Homo sapiens: one gene and its partners. The protein of the gene in region 1 interacts with the protein of each later gene in a pairwise test. Each region holds a gene or a part of one and is shown in the gene's direction. Other genes may lie near its edges. The genes, in order: PCBD1, TFF3 and HNF1B.

What was found.
Region 2: the proteins of PCBD1 (region 1) and TFF3 interact in binary tests that used the Homo sapiens proteins (3 or more experiments, as listed by UniProt).
Region 3: the proteins of PCBD1 (region 1) and HNF1B interact in binary tests that used the Homo sapiens proteins (3 or more experiments, as listed by UniProt).

Annotation. Positions count from the first base shown.
Region 1 is NC_000010.11:70,882,868-70,885,576, reverse strand, and holds the end of PCBD1 (pterin-4-alpha-carbinolamine dehydratase), read left to right. Parts: intron 1-344; coding exon 345-425; intron 426-1,528; coding exon 1,529-1,627; 3' UTR 1,628-2,067; downstream 2,068-2,709. UniProt on the Homo sapiens protein: Involved in tetrahydrobiopterin biosynthesis. Seems to both prevent the formation of 7-pterins and accelerate the formation of quinonoid-BH2. Coactivator for HNF1A-dependent transcription.
Region 2 is NC_000021.9:42,313,808-42,317,560, reverse strand, and holds the start of TFF3 (trefoil factor 3 precursor), read left to right. Parts: upstream 1-2,151; 5' UTR 2,152-2,186; coding exon 2,187-2,268; intron 2,269-3,753. UniProt on the Homo sapiens protein: Involved in the maintenance and repair of the intestinal mucosa. Promotes the mobility of epithelial cells in healing processes (motogen).
Region 3 is NC_000017.11:37,731,403-37,735,155, reverse strand, and holds part of HNF1B (hepatocyte nuclear factor 1-beta), read left to right. Parts: intron 1-1,334; coding exon 1,335-1,599; intron 1,600-3,325; coding exon 3,326-3,561; intron 3,562-3,753. UniProt on the Homo sapiens protein: Transcription factor that binds to the inverted palindrome 5'-GTTAATNATTAAC-3'. Binds to the FPC element in the cAMP regulatory unit of the PLAU gene. Transcriptional activity is increased by coactivator PCBD1.

The DNA of each region.
Region 1 (2,709 bases):
CCCTTCCTGGAACTTTTAGCAGCAGTCTTCTGAGGAGATAGTTCAAGTGGAAACCATGCACATCTGAAGACATTTGAACAGACGGCCAAGACTGGCCAGGCCAAAAGCCTGTTGTGGTGTTTCCACCTTGTTGACATCCTAAATAGCAAGACTTTCTTCCTACTGCAAGGACAATCTCTAACTCAAGCCTGAGAACCAGTGACAGGATGTCAAGGGGGAAATGATTATAGAGGAGTCTCCTGGGGGGAAGCTAATTCATCCTCCTGCGTCTAGGCCTTGAATTGGTGATGTCCAGAAGTCCTTTCTCTTAGAACACTAACCTGGCTCTCACTCCACTTAAATAGGCCTTTGGGTTCATGACAAGAGTGGCCCTGCAGGCTGAGAAACTGGACCACCATCCTGAATGGTTTAACGTGTACAACAAGGTGAGTGATGCTGTGTGCCTCTGTTGTGCTCTGCCCCCATCCAAATACTGCGAACTCTGACACATTCTGAAGGCTTTTGGACTTAACAATGAGCCTTCCTGACCCATAGGTCATCCACTCATCTCATTTCCAATCTCACTGAGATTGCACATGCCTAGAATCAACATAAATACCCCTGGGAAAAAAAAATCAGTCTTACTATAAAGAAATGCAAATTAAAAGATGCATGAGATAGTTGTGGTTAAAGTAGACATTTAAGTAGACATTAAGAAGGCAAAACCCAAGAAAGGAAAGGCTGTGGGAATCAGGCATACTTATTCAGTGTTCATAGCTCTAAATGGCTTTAATCTTGCTGGAGGTATGGAAGAATGAAAAAGTAATAAACTTGAACTAAGAATACACACATATTTGGGAGGCCGAGGTGGGCAGATCACGAGGTCAGGAGATCAAGACCCTCCTGGCTAACATGGTGAAACCCTGTCTCTACTAAAAACACAAAAAAATTAGGCGGGCGCGGTGGTGGACGCCTGTAGTCCCAGCTACTGGGGAGGCTGAGGCAGGAGAATGGTGGGAACCCGGGAGGCGGAGCTTGCAGTGAGCAGAGATTGAGCCACTGCACTCCAGCCTGGGAGACAGAGCAAGACTCCGTCTCAAAAAAAAAAAAAAAAAAAAATACAGACACATAGCCAACCTATCAAATTATTTGCTTAATGAATAGAAACAGTCATTAAATGTCTACCATGTGCCAAAAGCTCTGCTGGTCTCTGTTTATAAAAACAGTAAGGGTGGAAGAGGTCGTCTATGAATGGATAGTGTTTAGGAGTTGGCATTGGTTTTTGGTTTTGTCTTTAGCTTTTAGGTTGCTCTTGACATTCAGATATTAAGCTTTTATTCTATAGCTGAAGTCATGATTATTTTTGAGAGACAGCAAAGGGGAGATGTAGAAGATGTTGTTACAGACATGTCAGGAAGGAGTCCCCAGGAGAGATCGTACTGGCCAGCTGCTATTCTGGAGCTCCTAGCAGGGCTGAGCCCAGCAGCTAGTGACTCCCTCCTGTTCTTAAGTGAAGTCAGTGGAAGCAGAATTTCTGGTTTCATTTCAGGTCCACATCACGCTGAGCACCCATGAGTGTGCCGGCCTTTCAGAACGGGACATAAACCTGGCCAGCTTCATCGAACAAGTAGCAGTGTCCATGACATAGACCCTGCCCTTCCTCTTTGAATTCTTCCGGGGGAAGGGGTGACTGAACTGGGAGTCCAGGGAGGGAGCTGAGGAGCCCTTACCCTCCCACCACTCCCCTCCCAAGACCCAGCCGCCGCCGTTGAGGGCTGAGTCCTTGCTGTGGGATGTGCCAGTGTCCCCACCAACACCAGGAATTTAGACCTTTTCCCTGCACCACTCTCTTCATCCTGGGGGCTCTGTTACACTAATTTGAATAAACTCTCCCCTTTCTTTGCAACTTCCCAGCAACAATAATGATTTTCTTGCCAGGCCGTCTCTTGCTCCCTAATTCATTTCCCAGGAAGCTGTGATACAGGGTGAAATAAAGTCTTGTCTTAGAAACCAGGACCCTAAACCCCACACTATGTAATAGAAACACATGTGTTTTTATGTCTCAAATAAAACTATTATATCACTTGGTCTCAGGCTCTAGAAACTTCTTTTCCACAGGTCAATCCAAATTGGAGTCAATAGGCATTTAAATGAAAGCACTTCCTCTGTGCTAGGCACTTCCTCTGTTCAAGGTACTGGAAAATGACAGGGACCAGACCACCTTGCCTTCAGATTCATTATCATCTAGGGGATACCATTTGATTATCATCAAACAGGAACACAATTAACTATTACCAATTACCAATTAACTAGTACTAATTAACTATTACTAGAGTGAATTAATGCTAGGTGGCAGGATAAGAAATGAGCTAAAGGGAACGCAAGTGATTAATGGTGAAAAGGGCAAATCTGGAGGCTTTGAGTTATGCCTTGAAGACCTGGGTAGGATTCTTGGGAGGCAGAGATGGCTGAGAGAACACCATGAACACAGATAAGGGTGTGAAGGGCACAGGTATTATATGCATTGTGGAACCTATGTCTAGAAAGGCAGTCTGGGGCCATATTACAGGTTGAACATCCCTAATTTGAAAATTGGAAATCCAAAATCTGAAACTTTTTGAATGCCAACATGATGCCCAAAGGAAATACTCATTGGATCATTTTAGATTTCTGATTTTCAGATTAGAGATGCTCAACTTGTCAGTATAATGCAAATATTCCAAAATCCAA
Region 2 (3,753 bases), on another chromosome or scaffold:
GCATTGATATTCTCCCCACTCCAGGCAATTTTGAGTGCAGCAGGTGGAGACCACAGCACCTGCAGAAGCTCCTTGCGGGGGTCCTTCCCCAGCAGGTCATGAGGGCCGGAGGGGCAGCAGTCTGTTCCTGGGGTGTTTGCACCCTCCTGGAACTCAGCCCTGCACCACGACCTGGCCTGGCCTCTGGGTACTAGGAGCAGTGGGAAGGCAGGGAGATCTCACCAGATCCCCCAGGGAGATCTCACCAGATCCCCCAGGGATTTCCCCTACAATGACCTTTTTAATAACATGAAAATCCTGCTGTCCATTGATGAACCTGGGTCCGCTGTCTCCCAGAAAAAGTGAGTGCCCCGAAAACAAGGCAGGCAACGCTCTTTCCTTCTTCCTCCTTCGCTGGCCTCAGCGGGAGTGGCACATCAGAGGCCAGGGGCCCTCAAATCCATCCACAAAGGGCGTGCTGAGCGCAAGGGCGGGGCCTGGGAGTCACAGGGCAGGACACATCCTGGTGCTCAGCACGTACGCCATCGAGCTCCCATGGGTCACTCGGGGAAGGGCAGTTTGTGGATGCACCCTTGGAGGCTCAAGGCCGCCCTGCACACACCACCGGGGACCCCAGCTGCAGGCTAAATCCAAGCAGCCAGGCGCTCCCATTTCTCGGGGTGATAAACCAAGTCCACCCTTCAGACAGAGGCTCCTGGAAGGGCCAGTGGGGGTCATCAAAATGCCTCCCTGGAAAAGAAACACGGAGAACACAAAATCTAGGGGCCCGTTTTCCTGGAATGAGATTAGTCTCTTGCCCACTACCAGCCAGTCCACTGCAGGAGGTTGGGGGGTTGGGGGATGCTGCGGATGCCGAGGGCGGAGGCTTAGGGTCCTGGGAGTGGGTTAAATACCAGCTATACCAGGGACACTGGAGTAACCTCTGATAGGCACCGGAAATGTTGAGTCTTAGTTTCTTCCTCTGGAAAATGGATAGAATCATCGCTGTCTCATCTGATATGTTGTTATAAAACAATTCCTGAGATGTAGTCTTTAGTTTTTAAAAGAGCACGCTGGGCAAAGGTGGAGAGTCAGTTCCTGTTTGTGTTAAAAATGTGGCCGAGTGCAGTGGCTCATGCCTGTAATCCTGACACTTTGGGAGGCCAAGGAAGGCAGATCACTTGAGTCCAGGAGTCTGAGACCAGCCTGGCCAACATGGCGACACCTGGTCTCTAAAAAAATACAAAATATTAGCTGGACACATGCCTGTGGCCCAGCTACTTAGGAGGCTGAGGTGGGAGGATCACTTGAGCCCCGCGAGGGCGGGGGTCTCAGTGAGTTGAGATTGTGCCACTGCACTCCAGCCTGGGTAACAGAGCAAGACCCTGTCTCCAAAAAAAAAAAACAAAAAAAAAACAAAAAAAAAACAAAACAAACAAACAAACAAAAACAAACCAAAAAAACGTGCTTAGATCCAGAGAGAAAAATTCTGAAAGGATACCTAAAAAAGTGTTCACAATAGATCAATAGATGCCTCTGGATAGGAAAGGCTCTTTTGTATTATTTGATTTTAAAAATCAATTATGTGTACCATGTTTTTACTAACATATTTTCAATCAATTCATTTCATCCACTTATTAAAATGTAGTTACTAATTTTTAGGGGAGAAAGCAAAAAGGAAAGACAAGGAATCTCTGTGTTTCAGGAGTTGTGAGAGAGCCGCAGGGTCCTGACTCACTCAGAGCTGCCTGTCTCCGAGGCCGATCTGGGATGAAGCAGCCTGGGGCTCTCTTGTCATGGGACCAGGGGTGTTCTGAGGGCTTCTGGCTGGGAGGCTGAGATGGAACGGACACCACACCCTGGTCCTGCCACCCCACATGGCTCCTGCACACTACACCAGGCCAGGCTAGGAGGGCAATTGACACACATCCGCTCCCCAGTAGAGGACCCGGAACCAGAACTGGAATCCGCCCTTACCGCTTGCTGCCAAAACAGTGGGGGCTGAACTGACCTCTCCCCTTTGGGAGAGAAAAACTGTCTGGGAGCTTGACAAAGGCATGCAGGAGAGAACAGGAGCAGCCACAGCCAGGAGGGAGAGCCTTCCCCAAGCAAACAATCCAGAGCAGCTGTGCAAACAACGGTGCATAAATGAGGCCTCCTGGACCATGAAGCGAGTCCTGAGCTGCGTCCCGGAGCCCACGGTGGTCATGGCTGCCAGAGCGCTCTGCATGCTGGGGCTGGTCCTGGCCTTGCTGTCCTCCAGCTCTGCTGAGGAGTACGTGGGCCTGTGTGAGTACTGCCCTGACTGCCCCGGTGGCAGGGTGGGCGTGAAGGGAAGGGATCCAGGATAAGGGGGGATTCTGCATTCATTTAATAATGGCCACCTGTCACATATACACTTTTTCCTGCGCTAGCCCTTTGAAGTGGGTCTTTATTGTCCCCATTTCACAGACAAGGAAACCGAGGCTCAGAGAAAGTTAACAACTTATCCAAGGCAGCCCTGCCCAGTCTGTGTTGAAATCAGGGTTTGAGCCTGAGCCCATCCCCTATGACCCCATAGCCATCTTTGCTGGAGATTTCTAAATTACAATATAGGTCTTTATGCATTGTTCCACATTTACAAAGAAAAAGGAAAGATGCAGGAGAAAAACCCTGACTTCAGAACACTGTCAATACCGGCAGGCACAAGGTTCATTTAGCCATTGCATAGCAACCCTGCCATGGGGTGTGGCTGCTCCATTAACCCAAGTTTGAAGGAATGAGGGCATGGCTTTTATCTGGGTGTCTTCTGAGCAGGGTCAAAGGCAGTGGTTCCCGAACTTGCAGCCCATTAGAATCACCTGGAGAGCTTTAAAAATCCTAATGCTTGGGGCACACCAGTTACATCAGGGCATCTCCAGGCAAGATCCAGGCCTCAGCTGTTTTGTTTTGAGATAGCCTTGCTTTGTCACTCACTGCTGGAGTGCAGTGGCACAATCTCAGCTCACTGCAACCTCCGCCTCCTGGGTTCAAGCAATTCTTGTGCCTCGGCTTCAAGTAGCTGGGATTACAGGCATGCACCACCATGCCCAGCTAATTTTTTGGATTTTTAGTAGAGATGGAGTTTCGCTATGTTGGCCAAGCTGGTCTCAAACTCCTGGCCTCAAGTGATCCTCCTGCCTTGGCCTCCCAAAGTGCTGGAATTACAGGTGTAAGCCACCATGCCCAGCCAACGTCAGTCATTTTTAAAGCTCTGCAGCTGATTCCAGTGTGAGCGAAGTTTGGATGCCAGGAGGATAAGCAATTACGGACTGGGAGCAAGAGAAGGGAATGTAAGACACTGCACGTGATTGCCATTTTCCTAAGGAAATACTCAGTTCGTTAATGAAACGCAGTGAACTTCTGCTGCACATACAGACATAGAGGCTTGCCTGAAACATGAAAATATTGGGGACTGAAGGATGTCCCGGGAGGGTGGGACATGCTCAACAATTCAGGAAGGGGAGATGCAGAAAAAAGTGAAAAGCAGGCAGCATGCGTTGCAATGATCTCTATGGCGTGTGCCTCTCCTGTCACGGTTTTCATTTAAAACAAAGGGGCAAGGTTTTGTTGGTCAAACAATGAAGGGTAACTTTGTTTCTGGGTTCAAGGGACCCCAGATTCCCCAGGGGTTCCTGCCAGCTGGAAGGTACCCAGGTCCGTATGTGACTTCCCGAGAAGGTGATAAGAGCGTGCCAAGGAGAAAGACACTTAGGCAAATGGCCAGAGTCCCCGAGCTGAGCATTTAACAGACTG
Region 3 (3,753 bases), on another chromosome or scaffold:
GTGGTAGCCTTCCACTTTCTGTGACCTGTGGGAGTAATTACAGGAACTGAGAAAGAAAGTCATCAAGGTCGGGCACGGTGGCTCACACCTGTAATCCCTGCACTTTGGGAGGCTGAGGCAGGTGGATCACCTGAGGTCGGGAGTTTGAGACCAGCCTGCCCAACATGATGAAACCCCATCTCTACTAAAAATACAAAAAATTAGCTGGGCATGGTGCCGCACACCTATAATCCCAGCTACTCAGGAGGCTGAGGCAGGAGAATTGTTTGAACCCGGGAGGCGGAGATTGTAGTGAGCCGAGATCACACCACTGTACTCCAGCCTGGGCAACAAGAGGCAAACTCTGTCTCAAAAAAAAAAAAAAAAGATATTAAGATCCAGAACATAGGGACCCAGAGCTAGGAGATGAATGTATTACGTGTCTTTGCTCAGCAGAGTGCTTAGCCTCCATGTTTATTCATCTTTAAAATGGAATTAATCACTCCTGATGAGCCCTGCTTCATGCAGATGTGAAGACGAGGACAGCAAAGCTTTCTTCTTCGGTAATGTAGATATCAAATCTCATTAAACCATGTGGGCTAAGGCATCACCTCTGGGCCGAGCTGCTGGTTCTCATTCATTCCACAAAAATCTCCTGATGGTCACAGTATGCCTGGACTCAAGGAATTGGACAGACAGGGAGCATCATTTCCAGCTAATTAAACACTACTCCCAGACAGGTCCTGTGTTTGTAGTCTTTGAAATTATTTTGAGATCTAAAGCACATTTTCTTTTTCCAATACAAAGCTCCAGTTATATTTATTTCAAAGCATGTTCCAAAAGGTTTGGGGTTTTTCTAAAAACCTGACTTTATAATGTAGATACCTAGGATATAGGAAGAGGGAGGAGAGGTGGGGAGTGCTATCTACAGCCTCTGAATATTTTGTGCAAGTGTAAATTGTACCTTTGAGCAGTTCTCCCCTGGATGTGAGACTTGATTGAGCTCACCCACTTGACATCAAATACAGGAGTTCAGGATGCAGAGTGTTGCTTCATCTCTGAAGGCCAGTGAGCCAAAGGGGAAAAAATAATAATTTTCTTAAAACTATAGCTGGCTATGTTTGAGCTCCTTCAAAGAAAGGAAAAGGGTGGCTTTGCTGGAGCAACTGAGGTGGGCAGTAAGGGCCTGTGCTGAGGGCTCCCCATCTCCAGCTCCACATGCAGTGAGAGAAGGTTGCAAAGCTTAGTTAGACGAGGGGAATAAAGGTGTCTTCGTCCGTTGTCTGTCTGTCTGTCTGTCTGTCTGCTGAGTGAAGGCTACAGACCCTATCAAATCTACTCCTTTCTCTTTTCAGAATTCAACCAGACAGTCCAGAGTTCTGGAAATATGACAGACAAAAGCAGTCAGGATCAGCTGCTGTTTCTCTTTCCAGAGTTCAGTCAACAGAGCCATGGGCCTGGGCAGTCCGATGATGCCTGCTCTGAGCCCACCAACAAGAAGATGCGCCGCAACCGGTTCAAATGGGGGCCCGCGTCCCAGCAAATCTTGTACCAGGCCTACGATCGGCAAAAGAACCCCAGCAAGGAAGAGAGAGAGGCCTTAGTGGAGGAATGCAACAGGTAACACCACCAGAAGCTCACCTGGGCAGGTGGGCAAGTACACAGACCCAGGAACCCTCCCCTCGGTCCTGGGATATTGAGACACTAGTTATACAGATAAGTGTGGCTAAATCAGAGCTTCTCAAAGTATGTTCCACAGAACCCCAATATCAATTCATTAATCAGTAAGTCTGAGAATCAGCATATGGATACTTCCCCTTAGAGAGTCACAACATATATTAAAGGTTCCGAGAAGCCCTGCAGTCAAGAAACCCACTTAGCTTTGTTGAATTGGTTGTTAACTATGGAATCTTCGGTAGAGTACAAACAACCCCATGAATTATTCTTCCAGGGAAGATACTCTGGAGAATGCTAATTTAAAATATGATACTTGGGAAGCGAAATTGTGTGTTTGACCTCCCTGCAGGCCAGGGTAAAACTTTCCCTTAGCCACAGACTCTAGATCTGGCCTCTACCAATTGTCAGACATGCAGTGGTCCAAAAGGAAACTTGGCAGGAGAGTAAGAATTGGTCAGATCTGTTCAGTCCACTCTGCCCCCGCTGACTCAACAGAGTTCTTTTTACTTGTTAACTACCAGCCAGGCACGGTGGCTCACACTTATAATCCCAGCACTTTGGGAGGCCGAGGCGGGAGGATTGCTTGAGCCCAGGAGTTTGAGACCAGCCTGGGCAACATGGTGAAACCCTATCTCTATTTAAAAAAAAAACAAAAAAACAAAAAAACAACTCTGTGTTATTTTAAGTATTTATTTTTAAAATGTGGTCTTGCTATGTTGCCCAGCAGATCTTGAACTGGGCTTAAGCGATCCTCCTGCCTTGGCCTCCTAAATAGCTGGGATTACAGGCTCTAGCCACAGGGCCCAGCTATTTTTTTTTAAACGATTGGAAAGCCTTGGGAAATCTTTTTACTTCATTCCTGCCCTGTTCTCCCTGACTCCAGTATTGACTTTCTAAAACTTCAGCTCTTTGGTCTGGCCAAGGCCTGTGTGCGCTTTCTCTGTCTCTGGGCTGGGCTGGCCTTGGCTGTGGGAAGAATGCAGCCAGGGAGGTCAGGCTGGGAAGCAGGGAGGCCTGTATTGCCACTGAGTCCTCAGGCTGTGCTCCATACCCCGACTAATGAGATGCCTTGCAGCACCCAGTAGTGTCTAAGAATCTCTCGCACCTGGTTTTGAGGTTTCACCAGCCCTGATAAAGCTAGAGACTGGCCATCTCAATGCACCCTGCTTTGTACCCCACCCAGCCTGCCTTTTGGAGGGGATAAAGCATCTTGCTTCCTGGCACTCTTTCAGGGAGTTCAAGCCCCAAAAGACCAGAAATCCTCTCGAAGTGCTTTGAAGCCACTCAAGACAGAGCCAGCGAAGGGCTTTGCCTTTTATGTGGTGGGAAGAATGGCTAAATAAGGAAGCCCCATCTGGACCTTCCCCTGGACTGCCTGTCCCCGGCTTGCTCTCTTCTCCTCGAGAGCCACACCAGAGCCTAAGCCCCTGACTCCCAGGGCGGCATAGCCTGCTCTGTCCCTGCGTTCAGGCCCACTTCAGCCATCTTCATCAGATCACTCCATGGATTGGCCTTTTCTCTGCATAGGCCTCTCCTCCCCAGCCTTCCATTCTGCCCACGGCCCCTTCATACTCCCAACCAAGACTGCTGTGATTGTGTGTTTTTGGCCAAGCACCAACAAGTCCCCCCGCCCCCCCTCACTCACCATCTCCCCTCCATCCATTCCCAGGGCAGAATGTTTGCAGCGAGGGGTGTCCCCCTCCAAAGCCCACGGCCTGGGCTCCAACTTGGTCACTGAGGTCCGTGTCTACAACTGGTTTGCAAACCGCAGGAAGGAGGAGGCATTCCGGCAAAAGCTGGCCATGGACGCCTATAGCTCCAACCAGACTCACAGCCTGAACCCTCTGCTCTCCCACGGCTCCCCCCACCACCAGCCCAGCTCCTCTCCTCCAAACAAGCTGTCAGGTAAGCAAAGGTTGGGCCTCACTGCCTCGGCAACCCAACCATCCTGGTTCTTGCCACGGATCTTATCTGGTTTAAGGGTTTTCAGAGGAGCAAACGCTTTTGAGATGATCCTAGGGCCGCTCTCTCATTGCCAGAATATACTCCCCTGGAAATAATGTGTGGCTCTGATCAGTTTCCTCCAACTCCTGGTTC